Regions from separate parts of the Homo sapiens genome. Here regions 2 and 3 are each linked to region 1. The links come from fine-mapping of genetic effects on gene expression. A gene starts in region 1. Each other region holds a variant in brackets. All regions are shown on one strand. Distances are from middle to middle.

Evidence for each region.
Region 2: its variant is fine-mapped to the expression of METTL16 in whole blood (INTERVAL, PIP above 0.99).
Region 3: its variant is fine-mapped to the expression of METTL16 in thyroid (GTEx, PIP above 0.99). The same link has a PIP of 0.9 or more in unexposed skin and whole blood.

What each region holds. Positions count from the first base shown.
Region 1 is chr17:2,509,154-2,515,385 of GRCh38, forward strand. It overlaps METTL16 (methyltransferase 16, RNA N6-adenosine), which reads right to left and starts at 2,735. Exons shown (of 10, transcript NM_024086.4): 1 at 2,606-2,735. RefSeq lists enhancers at 2,606-2,815, 2,886-2,935.
Region 2 is chr17:2,405,089-2,411,320 of GRCh38, forward strand. It overlaps LOC284009 (a long non-coding RNA gene), which reads right to left. Exons shown (of 3, transcript NR_028335.1): 3 at 1,893-2,142. Among named protein-coding and RNA genes, the nearest start is that of MNT, 7.1 kb to the left of the region's middle. The variant G/A (reference allele first, on the strand shown) is at 3,554.
Region 3 is chr17:2,413,385-2,419,375 of GRCh38, forward strand. METTL16 (methyltransferase 16, RNA N6-adenosine) reads right to left here. Exons shown (of 10, transcript NM_024086.4): 10 at 2,665-5,991. LOC284009 (a long non-coding RNA gene) reads right to left here and starts at 2,052. Exons shown (of 3, transcript NR_028335.1): 1 at 1,804-2,052; 2 at 1,011-1,087. The variant A/G (reference allele first, on the strand shown) is at 3,497.

The sequences.
Region 1 (6,232 bases):
ATATGTCACACATAGACCTGCAACCATATCCATCCTAGTCTTTACTATACCCCCAGCAACCTGTATACAATAAATATTTTTTGAGTAAACAATTCAGAATTTGAGGGGATTAGTAGTCACCTGAAAGTTTTTCAGCATACTGTTACTACATTTTGCCCCTCACACTATGACTAAAAATGACTATATACCTGTCTTAATTTCCTAGCATTGACATACCCTTTACTGACCATCAGGAAAGAGGGGAGCATAAAACTAGGATGGCCCCCAGTTCTCAAGAAAACATCAACTGGGCAAGGTGGTGCATGCCTGTGTTCCTAGCTACTAGGGATGCCAAGGATAGCTTGAGCCCAGGAGTTCCAGTCCAGCCTGGGCCACACAGTGAGACCCTGTCTCAAAATAAACAAATACAAATAATAGACTTTATTAAAAAGAAAATATCCAAAATTAAAGTGTTGGCCGGGCACAGTCGCTCACGACTATAATCCCAACACTTTCGGAGGCCAAGACTGGAGGATCACCTGAGGTCAGGAGTTTGTGAGACCAGCCTGGCCAACATGGAGACCATCCTGGCCAACATAGTGAAACCCTATCTCTACTAAAAATACAAAAATTAGCTGGGTGTGGTGGCATGTGCCTGAAGTCCCAGCTACTTGGGAGGCTGAGGCAGGAGAATCACTTGAATTCAGGAGGCCGAAGTTGCAGTGAGCCAAGATCACGCCACTGCACTCCAGCCTGGTGACAGAGCAACACTCCGTCTCAAAAAAAAAAAAAAAATTAGCTGGGCGTGGTGGTGGGTGCCTGTAATCCCAGCTACTCGGGAGGCTGAGGCAGGAGAATCACTTGAACCCAGGAGGTGGAGGTTGCAGTGAGCCAAGATCGTGCTACTGCACTCCAGCCTTGGTGACAGTGAAACTGTCTCAAAAAAAAAAAAGAAAAAGAAAATGTTCTTTCTTGTGATTCTGGCAAGCAACAAAAAAAAGTAAACTAAGAGTAATTTCTTTAAACTGATGGAAAATATTTTCCCAATTTATGGGGGACATGTGACATTTATGCGGTATTTGTTCCACGCATAGAATGTGTGCTGATCAAGTCAGAGTATATGGGGTATTCACCACTTTGAGTATTTTTTATATCTATGTATTGGTAACATTTCAAGCCCTCTCCTAGCTATTTTGAAATATACATTGTTGCTGACTTTAGTCACCATATCCTAACAGTGACTTCAAGAGACAGTGGCATGTTAGGGCTCTGCCACACATTAAGGAAAATTCTACAGACTACATAGCTGACATCAGTGCACACACAACATAATACTCTGAATATATGTGAAACAAATTAAATTACAGACATGGCAGATTCGATTCATTTCCTACATTATTCAACTTTTCTGGTCAGAACAGATACAGAATGAGTAAATACAACCACTTCTTTTCTAACTAACCTCCCAATATAGGCAATGAGTTCTTAGCTAAATATAACCTATTCTTCAGAGTTTAACTGGGCATCAATTCTTTTTTTTTTCTTCTTGTTGAGACAAGGTCTTCCATTCTGTTGCCCAGAGTGCAATGATGGAATCATAGCTCCCTGCAGCCTCCAACTCCTGAGATCAAGCAATCCTCCCGCCTGAGCCTCCCAAGCAGCTGGGACTACAGGTACAGAGCACTGCACCTGGTTAATTTACTTCATTTTTTGTAGAAAGGGAGTCTGGCTTTGCTACCCAGGCTCTAGCTTCAATTTTCTACACAGAATTTACCCATCTGGCATTCCATATATTTTACTTACTTTAAAAAATCTCCCGTCAGTAAGTTTCAAGAGGGTAAATATTTTGTCTGTCTTGTTCACCGCATATCCCAACGCCTAAAATAGGGCCTAAGAGAGTAGGCACTCAAGTATTTGTTGATTGAAACCACGATAGAACTCTTCCCTGTCTGGACCACCGACACAAAGCACCCTCACTGAGTTTCAAAAAAAGCTCAGCCCATGGACTGGAACTTTTCTTCCCGGTTACTTGAGTCAGTCCAGAAAGCCACAGTTAATAGTAGAACCCTGAGAATGAGGCTTTCCCTTTTTTTTTTTTTCTTTCTCATCTCCATGCTTCTGTTTCCTTGGTTCCTCTTGACCATTAACCCTCTTCAACTACCACTCTCTTGATACACAGCCTGTAAAACAGTCTAAATTCCAATTTCAGAACTTCAAATTCTTTCTGCACAGATCCCTCCCACTTCCACACCAATCTACATCTTCTCTCTTCGCCTTCTCTCATAAATCCGACGTTTCCCACTAGTCCTGCCACTGCCGTTCTTTCCATGCCCTCATTTTATCAGCTCAGTTTGTCTTCCCGCCTCAGTTTTGGATCTCTCTAAACCTCCTAAACACCGGGGAGTCTTTCCTACTTCAGTCCTAGTCTCTATTCTATTCGCCAACTCCTCCCACTCATCCACTCTCAACACCCCCGCGTGCGCACACACAGCCACATCAGGTCTCCCCTCCTAGACCCCGAAGTCGGCACCTCACTAGCCCAAAACTCAAGAATGAGGAACCCGTGTGATCCACGGGTTAAGTGACCCATGATAGTAAATCTGCGTGAGAGATATAAGTGACCCACCTCTGAGGCCGAGGTTCCTGCCAGACGTCGTGTCTGGCGTGGGCCTGTACAACCCTAGAATCTTAAAGCAGCCGCATAGCGAAGCTCCTAGAAACGCAGATGATACGCTCCCAGCGCGCCGCCATCTTGTGAAGCCATCTAGCCTCGTGATTGGACACATCCCTCTCGCGCGACCTGTGGCTGATCTTGAAGAAAGAAGAAACCCTCGCGACACCTGGGGTTTGCTGCTCCTAACAGAAGGCGCGGGGGCGTGGTGACGAGCGGAGTCCTTTGAGGTATGGCAGGAGGAGGACATGCGTTCGAATTCGCGAGAAAACTTATTTAAAAGAAAAAGAAACAAGTTTTCCGGGCCCTGCTGCAGACTTACCTCTCACACTCACTGGGATTGGGCAGGTTATGAAGATGAGGGTACGAGACTTGGGTGTGATGGCGTGCAGTGAGCCCTTTTTGTGCAACAGGTGTGTCCTCAGCCGATGTCTCACTCACTGAATTGTAAGAGATATAAGCCTGTGGGTTGGGGAAGAGTACTCTCGTTTACAGCGAAAGAACTGAGGATCCGGCCGGACGCGGCGGCTCACGCTTGTAATCCCAGCACTTTGGGAGGCTGAGGCGGGCAGATCACCTGAGGTCAGGAGTTCAAGACCAGCCTGGACAACATGGTGAAACCCCGTCTCTACTAAAAATACAAAAATTAGCCGGGCGTGGTGGCGGGCGCCTGTAATCCCAGCTACTCGGGAGGCTGAGGCAGGAGAATCGCTTGAATCCGGGAAGCGGAGGTTGCAGTGAGCCAAGATCGCACCACTGCACTCCAGCCTGAGCGAAAGAGCAAGACTCTGTCTCAAAAAAAAAAAAAAAAGGGGGGGCCTGCCTACGTCCTCGTCGTTAATGTGAACGCTTCTGGCAAACTATTACCATAAAATTGGGAGATAGTAAGGATTAAGGAATGGAGACTTATACACAAGTGAGTACCAGTAGTCACCCAAGGAAAGCTGAGGAGGTGTTTTCATAATCTGTTGTGTAACAAACCGCCCCAAAACGTAAGACTTAAAACAACCACCATTTTACTTGCTCACAGTTCTGCAATCTGGGCTGGGATTAGCCCACCCGTTCTGCTGGTCTTGCCAGTGGTCATAGCAACAAGTGGGGGCTGGTTCCGCTGAAAGAACTGGGTCTCTCTCCCTGTAGTCCAAGTTCTCTCCCTGTCCACGTGGCCTTTCCATGTAATTTGTCTAGCAGAGTAGGATGACATTTTTTTTTTCCCCCGAGATGGAGTTTCTTATTGCCCAGGCTGGAGTGCAATGGCGCCATCTCGGCTCACTGCATGCAACCTCTGCCTCCTGGGTTCAAGCGATTTTCTTGCCTCAGCCTCCCAAGTAGCTGAGTAGCTGAGATTACAGGCGCCCGCCACCATGCCCAGCTAATTTTTTGTATTTTTAGTAGAGACGGGGTTTCATCCTGTTGGCCAGGCTGGTCTCAAACTCCTGACCTCAGATGATCCACCCGCCTCGGCCTCCCAAAGTACTGAGATTACAGGCATGAGCCATCGTGCCCCGCCAGAATACTTCTTACATGTTGGCTCGGGGCTCCCAAAAGGGCAAAAGTGGAAGCTGCCAGGCCTTCTTAAAGCGTAGGTGCAGAACTAGCACCTTGGCTATATTCTTGGTTAAAGCAAGTAGAAGGGCTAGCCCCAATTCAAGGGGAGGGGACTATGCCAGGGTCCCTTCCAATACTGGAAGGCATGGTTCATTTCAGCAACCAATGTAACATATTACCACAGAAAGTTTTCCATCTTTGGTTGGTAGTGGCTTTGATACTAGTTATGGCATTTTATTTAGTGCATGCTGCTGGAAAGGTAAAAGAAAAGATGGCCTCGGAGATAGGACTGGTGGGGTTGAAGTGATTGTATTTAAGATATTGGTAACTTTCTGTTAGCTCCAAAGAGCAACCCAGTTTACCTGTAGGTCGGGCCAGAGAGACCCTAGTAGCACTGCAGCTGGGAAACCTGGCCTTTAATCCTGCCCCCACCATTTACTAACCCTGTGAGTATGGGCAATTTGCTTAAACACTTGAAGGCTTAGTTTGCTCAATATTACAAAATAGGATAATAATCTCATGGGGTTGTGAGAATTAAATCAGATAATGCATATAAAACAGCAGAATGTCTAGTATATAGTGAGTTCCTAATAATAATAATATTGTTCCTTATAACTTCTCTGGTCAGTTTTTTTTAAGTATTCCATAAAGATAAAACATTTTAATAACTGAAAATTTTTAAATAATTTAAATAATACATAAAGATATCAGAAAGACAAAAATTATCTAAAATCTCACCACTCACAGCCAAGCACCATCAAATTTGGGTAACCTTACTACTAAACCTCTATATCTCATAAGGATATATAACCAAATAATTTTTATACAAATAATAATATATATTTGTATATATATGTAATTACATATATATACACACACACACATGCACATATACTCAAATATAACTCTTGGAGATTCTTCCACTTCCAACAATATAGCTCTTTATTGTTCTTTGTGATAGGTGCACAGTATTCCATTGAATGCATATAACACTTTTTTTTTTTTTTTTGAGACAGAGTCTCTCTGTCGCCCAGGCTGGAGTGCAGTGGCGTGATCTCGGCTCACTGCAACCTCCACCTCCTAGGTTCAAGCGATTCTTCTGCCTCAGCCTCCCGAGTAGCTGGGATTACAGGTGCCCACCACCACGCCTGGCTAATTTTTTTGTATTTTTAGTAGAGACAGGGTTTCACCATGTTGGCCAGGTTGGTCTCGAACTCCTGACTTCGTGATCCACTCGCCTCGGCCTCCCAGAGGGCTGGGATTATAGGCCTGGGCCACCGCACCCAGCTGGATATACCACTTTTTAAAAAACTAATTCGTGCCCAGGTTGGGTTGGCCAGACCTATAATCCCAGCACTCTGAGAGGCGAAGGCAGGTGGGTCACTTGAGGTCAGGAGTTTGAGACCAGCCTGGCCAACATAGTCAAACCCCGTCTCCATTAAAAATACAAAAATTAGCTGGGCGTGGTGGCGGGCACCTGCAATCCCAGCTACTCGGGAGGCTGAGGCAGGAAAATCGCTTAAACCCGGGAGGCAGAGGTTGCAGTGAGCCGAGATCGCGCCATTGCACTCCAGCCTGGGCAACAGAGTAAGACTCCATCTCAAAAACAAACAAACAAACAAACAAACAAACAACAACAAAAAAAAAACTAATTCCCCTGTGGATGGACATAGGTTCTTTCCAATGTATCTGGTATGACCTATTCCCAAATATTGTGGTACAATGATAAATACATATCCTTGAAAACTTTTTTATATAAAATGAAAATTATCTGGAGACTCCACAGAATAGATTAACAACATCTGCCTTTTTCCAAATTTACCCTGAAATGTCCAAGGATGTAATTGGTCAGAGAAGTCTCTCAAACTTCCATACCACAGCAAGGACAGTGCAGATGTCCAATTAGCCAGTTACATCCTTTGCTACCTCTTTGTAGCAGGAAACTGATTCTGCACATCCAGTGAATAATGCTGCTAATTATGAAATGTTGCCTAGCAAGTTATCAGAGCTGCTTTCAGCATCAGCTGCCTACTG
Region 2 (6,232 bases), 100 kb before region 1:
TGAGTTTCTCACGAGAGGGTTTCCGTTTTCAGTCTTCCTCCCCGAGTCTTGTGCACCCCACCTCCCAGTTCAAATTCCATTATGTCCTCCAATTTTTTAATCTTTTATTCTTTTTTTCACCAACCACAATAAGAAGCACCAATTCCCCAATTTTTTAATATGCTGAGCCAGAGACATCCCCTTAGTGGAACTGTCTTCCTATCCCCCACCACTCACCTAACAAAGTATCAACTCCAAGAGCTATGAAAATCAGTGCCCTGACTCCTACAAAGCCTGAGTCATGAGATGGGGGAAAGGGCGTGAAGCCGAAAGTACAGATGTTCACAGGAAATCCCAACCCTTCAAGCCTGATGTCTCATCTTTTGCAAGCAGCTAAGGAGCTTTTCACATACCATCATTAAAACAAGACCCATGGGAGGAAGCTGGCTGCAGGATGAAGAGGAAAAAACAGAAGACTAGTACACTCAAGACATACCAGAGAAGATCCATTTCATAAATATTTATTGTGTGCCTGAGGTGCCAAGCACTAGGCTAGGTATGCTGTGGCCAAGGCCAGGGGACCTCTGGTAAGCCAGAGCGGGGCAAAAGCAAACAGAGCGGAACTCCACTCCACTGTGATAACTTGCAAAAGATTAGTTCTGCTGTTCGCCACCGTGCTGGATGCAGCACCAGAGACAGGACGACACGAGGACCCAGAGGGCGCCGCCATGCTCATTTCAGAAGGTGCAGCCTCCGTGTCCGTGGGTCCGCACCCATGGAGGCAACTAACCGTGGATCAAAAATATTCAGGAAAAAAAAATGGAAAATATACAAGAAAAAATAATACAAATTTAAAAACCAACACAGCACAAGAACTATTTACACAGCATTTACATGGTATGAGGTATTTGAGTAGCGCAGAGATGAGTTAAAGGATACCTGAGGATGTGCATAGGTTACATGTAAGGGATTTGAGCATCATCCATGGACAGGTATTCAGGGAGGCTCCAGGAACCAATCCCCATTGGACAGTGAGAAGCAACTGTAATTCCGTTTTTCTATGTAGAGATAAAAACAAATTCAGTGGATTTAAGGCTGGGCCAGTCAACTGAGCCTGATTCCCCCAGTCTGAATGATGAGTGGGACTCTGAATTCCTTTGACAGAGGTGGACCCATTCAATCATCAGTGAAATGGGGTCCCCACAGCCAAAAGTTTCCACAGGACTCTTTACCTCCTTTCCCCACCCCAAGTGAGTTGTCAGAGGACCTCTCCTGAACTCACAGAACAGGTCCAATCAAGTTCCACCTCCCCATTCATGTCCTTTCCAGAAGCTGGGCGCGGTGGCTCACGCCCTAAGTTCCAGCTACGTGGGAGGCTGAGACAGGAGAATCGCCTGAGCCCAGGATTTCAAGGCCAGCCTGGGCAACATAGCAAGATACTGTCTCAAAAAAAAAAAAAAAAAAATTGCAGCCTCACATGATGTCATAGCTGGAAGAGCTGGGATCATGGGGTCTGACCTCCCAAGAGAAGGTGTATCCAAGGTCACAAAGCTGCCAAGCATCAGCTAGGTTGAGAAGTGGCCTGGTCCTCCTCTTTGGCTGGCTGGGCCAGGCCTGGGGAAGTGCTATCAGTGTGGGGTGTTGAGTCCCTGAAAGCCTCCCAGAAGTGGGTGAAGATGGAGAGGGAACTCCACCCCTCCTCGTTAAAGACAGGAATAATCATTCACTTTGCTTAGTGGTCCCCAATAAACAAGCTTAGCAGATAAGCGGGAAGACAGGGAAAGGGAATCAGACTTGGGATCCAGGAGCTCGCAGGACCCTGTTCTGCCCCAGGCCACTCAGGAATGGAGAGCTGCTAGCTGGACCTGGGTAGGTCACCATTACTCACTGGGGCTTTTGTCTGGCATGAAAGGTGACGGGAGAAAGGGGCAGATTTTTATCCAGGCAGCCACCGTGGGTGTGGACACTGAGTAATAAGGAAAGAAATGCAGTTCAGAAGCAAAGAGGGAGGAGCCAGGTCCTCTGAGCTCTTCTGAGAAACCAGAGCCCAGTCGAGCTCTGCAGCTAGAGTGGCAGCTGCGGATGACAGTGGGTCAGAAGCTTGGTGGGAGGAGGCTGACCCAGCGGAAAGGCACAGGAGACGGATGACGATGTCAGGGATTCCTTTAAAGGAAAAAAGAGGTGGCTTTATGACAGCAAAACTAATTCAGGTCAAGGGAGTGGGACTGGGCAGAAGTTATGAGTAAAGCCGGGTGGAGTCTTGCCATGGGAGTCAAGAGTCCGCTGGATCACGCAGGGGTGGGGACATGGTGATAGGGAAGAAACCTCCCAGGACCGACGGGCTGCAATGTGATCAGTGCCCCACACAAAGGACTAAGGTCTATATCCCAGCAGCCCCAGTTCACACCCAAATGCAAGGCTGTAGCATCAAGTCTTGAAAGCCCAAGAGATCAGCAGCCTATGCCAGGAATGAGGCTCTCTCTGGAGGCAAGGCCGAGAGCAGTGGCCGGTCACTGGCTGCACAGCCCAGAGCAGATACCACAGAGCCAGGGCTCAGCTCCAGGTGCACTATGAGATCTCTCCCCAAGGCCCCAGGGCCCACTGGGAAAGGACACACCACTGCTGCCCAGCCTGCTCCACTCCCTGTGCCATCAGGGACACCTCAGTGGGGAGTGCTAGAGCTTCCCAGCGCCCTCTCTGATGAGTTAGTCTGAAATAATGCTGAACCACTGGTAAAAGACAGGTCCTTAAACTTCACACCATACAGCAATGTAAATTCAAATGCTAAATGTAAAAAATAAAACTAAAATAGCCATAATAAAATATAGGAAAACATTTTTCAGCTCTAGGGTGGTGAAGGAGTTTCTACCCATAAAGGCAAACAAAGAAAATATAAAAGCACAGTGTGATAGATTTGATTACCTCTAAAAGCTATAAAAATAAAACAAAATCATCACTAAAGAAAAGAAAAAGGGGCCGGGCACAGTGGCTCATGCCTGTAATCCTAGCACTCTGGGAGGCCGAGGCGGGCGGATCACGTGAGGTTGGGAGTTCGAGACCAGCCTGGGCAACATGGTGAAACCCCTGTGTCTACTAAAAATACAAAAAAGTACCCGGGTGTGGTGGTACATGCGTGTAATCCCAGCTACTCTGGAGGCAGAGGCACGAGAATTGCTTGAACCCGGGAGGCGGAGGTTGCAGTGAGCCGAGATTGCACCACCGCACTCCAGCCTGGGGCGGGGCTGGGGGGTATGGGGAGAAAGAGCAAGACTCTGCCTCAAAAAAAAAAAAAAAAAAAAAAAAAAAAAAAAAAAAGGCCGGGCACAGTGGCTCACGCTTGTAATCCCAGCACTTTGGGAGGCCGAGGTGGGCGGATCACGAGGTCAGGAGATCGAGACCATCCTGGCTAACACGGTGAAACCCCGTCGCTACTAAAAATACAAAAATTAGCCGGGCGTGGTGGCATGCACCTGTACTCCCAGCTACTCAGGAGGCTGAGGCAGGAGAATCACTTGAACCCAGGAGGCGGAGGTTGCAGTGAGCCGAGATCACACCACTGCACTCCATCCTGGGC[G/A]ACAGAGCGAGACTCCATCTCAGGGAAAAAAAAATCACAATGGGGCCAAGCGCAGTGGCTCACACCTGTAATCCCAGCACTTTGGGAGGCCGAGGCGGGCGGATCACGAGGTCAGGAGATCGAGACCATCCTGGCTAACACGGTGAAACCCCGTCTCTACTAAACAAAATACAAAAAATTAGTCGGGCGTGGTGGCGGGCGCCTGTAGTCCCAGCTACTCGGGAGGCTGAGGCAGGAGAATGGCGTGAACCCGGGAGGCGGAGCTTGCAGTGAGCCGAGATCGCGCCACTGCACTCCAGCCCGGGCGACAGAGCGAGACTCTGTCTCAAAAAAAAAAAAAAAAAAAAAAAAAAAAAAAAAAAAAAAAAAGAAAAGAAAAAGGAAAGTGAAAACCAGAAAATCCAAATTTCCGACTAGTAACGGCTAGCTGAAGCAATGCTCACAATACTGACAGCATGTGAGGAAAACAGGGTTGCTACTATTAGCAGGGCTTGTCGCTGGGCAGTGTGGTTACCACTAATTTTTATTTGTACAAGTTTTCTGAAACATGTTAACTTTATAATAAGAAAAAAGTTATATTACTAAATGAAAAAGATTATAAAACACTAAGATACCATATGATCCATAATTTCTATGTAAAAAATATGCATATAAAATAGACAACAAAATGTAAAATAATTTGATTTGAATAGTAGAATTCTAGTGTTATTCAATATTTTCTAAAATTTTTCTCAGACAGGGTCTCACTCTGTCGCCCAGGCTGGAGTGCAGTGGTGTGCTCACAGCTCACTGCAGCCTTGACCTCCCTGGCTCAAGTGATCCTCCTACCTCAGCCTCCTGAGTATCTGGGACTACAGGCGTGCACCACCACACCCGACTAATTTTTTTATTTTTTGTAGAGATGGTATTTCGCCATGTTACCCAGGCTGGTCTTGAACTCCTGAGGTCAAGCGATCCATCCACCTCAGCCTCCCAAAGTGCTAAGATTAAAGGTGTGAGCCACAGTGCCCAGCATTTCTAAATTTTTTATAATGAAAATGTACTGCTTTTTTTTTTTTTGAGACGGAGTTTCACTCTTGTTGCCCAGGCTGGAGTGCAATGGCGTGATCTCGGCTCACCGTAGCCTCTGCCTCTTGGTTCAGGCGAGTCTCCTGCCTCAGCCTCCCAAGTTGGCTGAGATTACAGGCATGACGCACCATGCCCGGCTAATATTGTATTTTTAGTAGAGATGGGGTTTCTCCATGTTGGTCAGGCTGGTCTCAAACTCCCAACCTCAGGCGATCCGCCCGCCTCAGCCTCCCAAAGTGCTGGGATTACAGGCATGAGCCACTGCATCCGGCCTGTCCTGCTTTTTAAAAATAAAATTGCCGGGCACGGTAGCTCACGCCTGTAATCCCAGCACTTTGGGAGGCCGAGGAGGGTGGATCATGAGGTCAGGAGATCGAGACCATCCTGGCTAACACGGTGAAACCCTGTCTCTACTAAAAATACAAAAAATTAGTCGGGTGTGGTGGCGGGCGCCTGTAGTCCCAGCTACTCGGGAGGCTGAGGCAGGAGAATGGCGTGAACCTGGGAGGCGGGGCTTGCAGTGAGCCAAGATCGCGCCACTGCACTCCAGCCTGTGCGACAGAGCAAGACTCGTCTCAAAAATAAATAAATAAAATAAAATAAAATAAAATAAAATTGTCGGACTAAGAATTAAAAAAACCTGGCTGGGCACAGTGGCTCACGCCTGTAATCCCAACACTTTGGGAGGCCGAGGTGGGCGGATCACGAGGTCAGGAGATCGAGACCATCCTGCCCAACATGGTAAAACCCCGACTCTACCAAAAATTCAAAAATTAGCTGGGTGTGGTGGCGTGCGCCTGTAGTCCTAGCTACTTGGGAGGCTGAGGCAGGAGAATCGCTTGAACCTGGAAGACAGAGGTTGCGGTGAGCCGAAATAGTGCCATTGCACTCCAGCCTGGCGACAGAGCGAGACCCCGTCTCAAAACAACACAACAACAACAACAAAACCTGGAAATTATCAAAGGGGGAAAATGCTGGCCTGTCCTGTATCAGAAAGGGCCTCCCATTTTTTGGGATCTCGCATCTCTTGATCTCAACCAACTCCCCTGCCTGTGGGATCTATTTCCCATTCTACTCTTTCTTTTGAAAGCTTCCAGTTCACTCCCCAAACAAAGCAGATTTCATCTTGTTCTCTGCCCAAAATACCTAAATCTACTCTTTCTACTTCTTTACTCTGAAGCTCCCCGGAACTCGCTGAGGCCATTACAGAGCTCTATCGGGCTGGACTGGGGAGAGGTTTCTAAGGTGGAATTGGTGGGATTTAGTGGAAGACTTTACACCTGGTGGGAAAGGAGGGGGAAGAACAGAGATTTGTCCTCTGGAGAGCTGGGTGGATGGTGAGCAAGGCAACAGGAGAAGCAGGTGCAGACAATCAGAGGAGTTTCACACGGCCATGGGCCGGCGGGTGAGGAATGAGGATGCTGGAAGTTCAGGATGGGTCTGGATCTGGGCACAATGAATGTATGAGGAGTGGTTGAAGAAACTGGCGTGGATGAGGTCAGCCAGCAGTGGGAGAAAGAGCAAGCAGGCCCATGGGTAGACTCCTTCGGACTCCTCCCTTAAGAGGTGGGAAGGACCCTAAAACAGGGAAACAGGCAGCAAGCCGACCAG
Region 3 (5,991 bases), 96 kb before region 1:
GGGTTCAAGCGATTCTCCTGCCTCAGCCTCCCGAGTAGCTGGGATTACAGGTGTGAGCCACCACGCCCGGCTAATTTTTGTATTTTTAGTAGAGACGGGTTTCACCATGTTGGCCAGGCTGGTCTCAAACTCCTGACCTCAGGTGATCCACCCGCCTCGGCCTCCCAAAGTGCTGGGATTACAGGCGTGAGCCACTGCATCTGGCCCCAACATGTACTTTCACTAGATATTTTATTTTGCGCTTTCACTAACTACTTAATTATCTGCACTACTGCCAAATACAAAGTTCCGTGAAGATTTGGTAGCATAAATGAAGAATTCTAAGTAATTCCACTGACTACATGTCACTCGTTCATCATAGGCTGGAAAATAATATTACCTTGAAGTGCTAAACTGTGAGGGTGAAAGATGCTTTTTTCCTTCCCCGTGTTGTATCACTGCAGCCCCCTCCCTAGAGGTGGGTCAGACGAGCCTGGAAGTACATTTCCACATGAAGTGCGGCACTTGCTATAGACTTTTGAGTTCCGGCACAAGATCCCAGTCTTGGCTTCTTGGACCTGAGTTCGAATCCCATTTCTATGACTGAGCTCCGTGGATAACCTTACAGCAAGTCACTGACACTCTCTGAGCTTCCCTTTCCTTCAGCCACCACCTAGGAACGTCACACAGGCTGACGGGGTTACTAAATGAGACAGTGTGTGTGGAAGGTGGACCATCAATATTGGCCCCCAGTCCTCCCTCCATCACATCAAGTATGGGTTTTGCTCTTTGTCAACGGTGGTACTTTACACCTACAGACATACACGTGAGGTCTCAGCCTTTTCATCTGAGTCTACTGGTAGAAGGTTTTCTGAATGGAAATGGACAATTCAAAGAATCGGAAGAGGAGCAAGTGTTTCCACCCTCTGCTGAGATTTCAGTCCTTCTTGCACTTAAGCACTGCTCTAAATGTGAAGCGACAATTCCTCATCTGTGGCACGAGGAAGACAAGGCTTAGTAAACGGACTTACCCTGTGCAAGGAATGGAACTGGACGGGAACCCAGGTCTGAACGTCGAAGTCTGTGCTCTTTCCTGCCTCTTGCTCCCCTAGGGTGGGTGGAAAAGAGTCTTGGGTTTACACCTGCCTGGCCCTCTCAGAGCACCATTTGCGAGCCAGTTCTGCCAAGTCCGACTGTACTTTTCCTCTACCCCTTCTCCTTTCAGTTCCCCTGTGAGGGAAGCACCCACAATCTTCCTCTTCCCTAAGGAAACCCACGCTTCTGCTTGGATTGAGACCGGCAGACAGGCTACATCTCAAAGGGCACCTCGAGGGGCAAGGGCGTTCTGTAGTCACAACACAGTCCGTGGAGTACAAAGCACAGCCTCCACCAGGCAGCATTAGCTGCTCCAACCAGGAATTTAAAACACCAACCGCTGTTTTAGTCATTTGGCTGAGCCACAGCAGAGCATGTGAATGTCACAGAACAGAGCAGGAACGCCGGGGCACGTGTGATGCCCATCATCAGTGGGGCAGGCGCCGTCCGGGCCTCTGATACTGCGCTGGCACTCATACCGAGAGCCGCGTACTCGGGATTACTAGAGAGGTTCGACACATCAGTGCTGCCCGCAGGAGGCAGGAGTCAGTTCATTCTATTCAGCCTCTTCTGGGTTTTACCGAGGTTAGTGCCCATTCAGCAAACCAAGTCTCCTGTGCACCAACTTCCCTAAAAAGGCCGTGACCCTTTCCTGAGGGGACCCCCTCTATCGCCATAAACCTGCTGCACCTTTGAAATGCTCCTTCTTCCAGAGGGCTCTTGACTTACTTTTCCCACCTGGCCCCTTCTCCTCCTATGTGCACAACTGCTGGGCGGCCACATCTGATCCTGTACCAGAAACATAAGGGGAGACGGGATCCTCCTTGAGCCCACACAGACCCCAGCGTTCTCCCCAGAAACGCCCCTTGTGAGAAGCAAGGCCGGCTAACCGACAGCATCTACACCACACAGAACCCTCACCTTCTGATATAAGCAACACACGACATGCATGGTAGCCAGCCAACCAGAGGAACCCCAAACAAGGGTCAACAACAGAACACTGAACCCAGCTGCTTTTTTTTTTTTTTTTTTTTTTTTTTTTTGAGACTGAGTCTTACTCTGTTGCCTGGGCTGGAGTGCAGTGGCACGATCTTGGCTCACTGCAACCTCTGCCTCCCGGGTTCAAGCGATTCTCCTACCTCAGCCTCCTGAGTAGCTGGGATTACAGGCATGCACCACCACGCCCAGCTCATTTTTGTATTTTTAGTAGAAACAGGGTTTCACCATGTTGGTCAGGCTGGTCTTGAACTCCTGACCTTGTGATCTGCCTGCCTCTGCCTCCCAAAGTGCTGGGATGACAGGCGTGAGCCACCGCACCCGGCCTTCTGAACCCAGCTGCTTTCTTGGAGATCTTGGTATTACTCCTGGCTTTTGGAAAGTTACTGTTTGAAGATCACTCAGCATTTCCCCTCCAGTATCTTCATTAACTAGATATCAAGAAAAACTGGATCCAAAGGACTGGCCCAACCTGGATATATTCTAGAGTAGAAGGACAGCTGGAAAGAACAGAAAAAACAGTCAGCTGGGACCATTAAAAAAACATTAAAAAGTCGAAAGGGATTATACCAGGTAAAGAGACCATGGCTAGTGTTTTTTTCTCTTTCTACTTTTATTTTTCAAATTTTATTTCTGTGAAAATGTATTTGTTTACATAAAAATACAAATCTGGGTAGCAACTGGGTATTTCAAGAAAACACCGTGGACAGACTTGTCTCCATTCCCACGGGGAAGTGAAGGCGCTTTGATAAAAGGGCCAAGGGTGCCCTCGTGTGGCCACGGAGGGAAATGCCGCGGCTTCAGCAGAAAGGAGGGGCTCCAGGAGCTGGTCGTGAAGTCATCAGCTCCCTTCTTTCAAAAGGCCTCGGATTTCCCACAGGCTTTTCCATCTTTTCCACTCCTTGCAGTTTTGTTATTCCTGTCACAACTTAGAAGTTCGAGTGCTCACATGGTAAGCTTTGATTTCCATCGAGAGGAAAGGCTTTATGTTTTATAAAAAATATATACTAAAGTAATCTACACGAAGCTTAGGATGAGTTGAAAGGGTACTGCCAAAACGCGGCCCTGCCCAGGACACACAGCAGAGGTCTGGAGTGGGGACAGTGCGGCCAGCATGTGTGGGGAAGGAAGCAGGCTGACGGAGGCAAAGCAGATTCCGAAGAACAAAAGCAGCTTTAGTTTGCCTGGGCAACAGGCTCAACTTCTGTCTCCACTTCAGTTATCAGGAGACCAGAAGCCGATTCTAGGGACCAGAAGAGAATGTAGGGTCACATCACCAAGATTTAATTTCATACCAACCCCGCAACATGAATGTGACCTCTGGACACCGGGAGAGTAACACTCAAGGTTATGACATATGAGTCAATAACCCATTTCTTCAAAGAAAAACTTGCCCACCTGTACCAGAGGTATATGCTATGAAACA[A/G]CACACAATTATAAAGCATATGCATGACCAAAACAATGCTTAGATGTCCTTTAAAAATATTTTCAATGTTCTCTCACTAGGTAGCCTAAGAAAATCTTCTCAGGGAAGGAAATGGAAACATCCAAATGCACAGAAGGCACTCGGCTCCAGACTGAAAGCTGGCCTGCTCATGGGTTCCTTTTTTTTTTTTTTTTTTTTTTTTTTTGAGACAGTCCCACTTTGTCGCCCAGGCTGTAGTGCAGTGGCATTCTCGGCTCACTGCAACCTCCACCTCCCAGGTTCAAGCGAGTCTCCTGCCTCAGCCTCCCGAGTAGCTGGGATTACAGGCACGTGCTATCATGCCCGGCTAATTTTTGTATTTTGAGTAGAGACGGGGTTTCGCCATGTTGGCCAGGCTGGTCTCAAACTCCCGACCTCATGCGATGCGCCCATCTCAGCCTCACAGTGCTGGGATTACAGGCGTGAGCCACTGCGCCTGGCCACGGTCACGGATTTTTTAAAACTCTAAGGTCATTAGCTTGACATCTATAAAATCTCCTCCATGACATGAAGCCTTAAACCTAGGGACAGAAACACACTGAGACACAGAAACACCTTCTGTGCTTCAATACACAGAGCATTCTCTGGAAATCCCTACGACACAGGCTTAAAGGCCAGTGCTGTGCCTGAAAGACATTTTGAACAGGCAAGGAGTGTAAGCTAATACACTACTGTTACAACATGGACAAATACTTGTAAGATGTTAAATGAACAAAGGACCAGAATACAAAACTGAATACGCAGCATGAGGACAACCAAAGTTAAACCCACACACTCACACACCCCGTCTACAGAGAGACTAGAAAGGAACACGCCAATGCCAAGAGTGGTTATGTTACAGAAGGTTGGGACTCGGGGTGATTTTGTTGTTTTGACTTTCATTTTTCCAAATCTTTAATGAGCATGTGCCACTCTTTCATAATGAAACAAGCAAACAATAAGTACTTACTACTTACTGAATGAATAGTTGCCACTTAAACAATTATCCTAAAATTATACCAAGGAAACTAGGTTTGGGCCCAGCAAATGACTCAAATGTAATATTCACTCGAGGTAAGGACAGTGGGGTGGTGTGGGCTGGCACAGCAGAAAATTTCTAGACCAGGGGAATCCACGGTCCTGAATTGAGTCTTGGCTCTGTGTGACCCTGGGTATTGTTTTTTGCAGCCTGACACATGAATGCTTGGACTAGAATAATGATTCTTAATCCTTAGTGGGTTATTGACCCCTTTGTCTGTGTCTGAGGGTTCTGGGAACCCTCTCTCCAGGAAAAAAAATACACACACACACACACACACACACACATGCTCACAGAGCTTTTAGAAGTAACTCTAGGAGGTACATGGACTCTCTGGAGGTCCACGGACCAGGTTAAGAACACTGGTCAGAGGCTGGGAGTAGTGGCTCACGGCTGTAATCCCAGCACTTTGGGAGGCCAAGGTGGGCGGATCACCCGAGATCATGAGTTCGAGATTAGCCTGGCCAACATGGTGAAATCCCATCTCTACCAAAAACACAAAATTAGCCAGGCGTGGTGGCGCGTGCCTGTAATCCCAGCTACTTGGGAGGCTGAGGCAGGAGAATCGCTTGAACCCGGGAGGCGGGGGTTGCAGTGAGCTAAGATCGCACCACGGCACTCCAGCCTAGACAACAAGAGTAAAACTCCACCTCATAACAAACAATCAATCAAAAAGCCACTGGTCAGTATGCTGCCTTCTCCAGCTCCAGCTCCACAGCCAAGTTAAGGCACAGCAGTTCCGCTTCCTGTGTCTCTGCCGAGGGCCTGATCTAGCTGCTGCCAAGACATGCCAAGGTCACCAGCTTCCCGTCCTGACCAACAGCCACCTCTCAGAAGGCTGGCTTAACTACTCAGCCCCAGTCTTCTTAGCAGATGGCAAGGAGCTCTGGCCAAGATTTTAGTCTAAACAGAACCCTAGGCTGCTGATGCAACATCAAGCACAGCAAAAGGTCACCCCTTTCCGGGGGGACGGCTACTGAACCCTGGCATTCCAATTAGAAACGTGTTTCAAGGACACAGTTACTCCGGCCTCAGAACTCTCCAATGTGAGTAGGTAAGTACAGGGGGGATTACAAGTGAAGCCACAAAAAAACAGTATTTGATCAGCAACAAAATATCTGAGACTTTCTTAAGCTACCTACGGCACATACTATTTTGTTCTATTTCTCATTTCTATCATCAGCCGCTCACTCAGCTAACCCCAGGATTCAAATAGGACCGCTGGTTTTTAATTTGTGAATATTCTTATTTAAAAACAAAACAAGCTCTACTTCAGATGTCCAAACAAAAATCACACAGTAGTAAAACTGCTACAAAATGGTACTGTCAACAGGCTGGAGGTGGGGGTATGGGTGCCTTCTGTGTGCCTCAGTCACACCGGGGAGTTTTGCTTACCTAATTCTGCTTCTGAAATAAGCAACATCAAAACAGCCAGGTG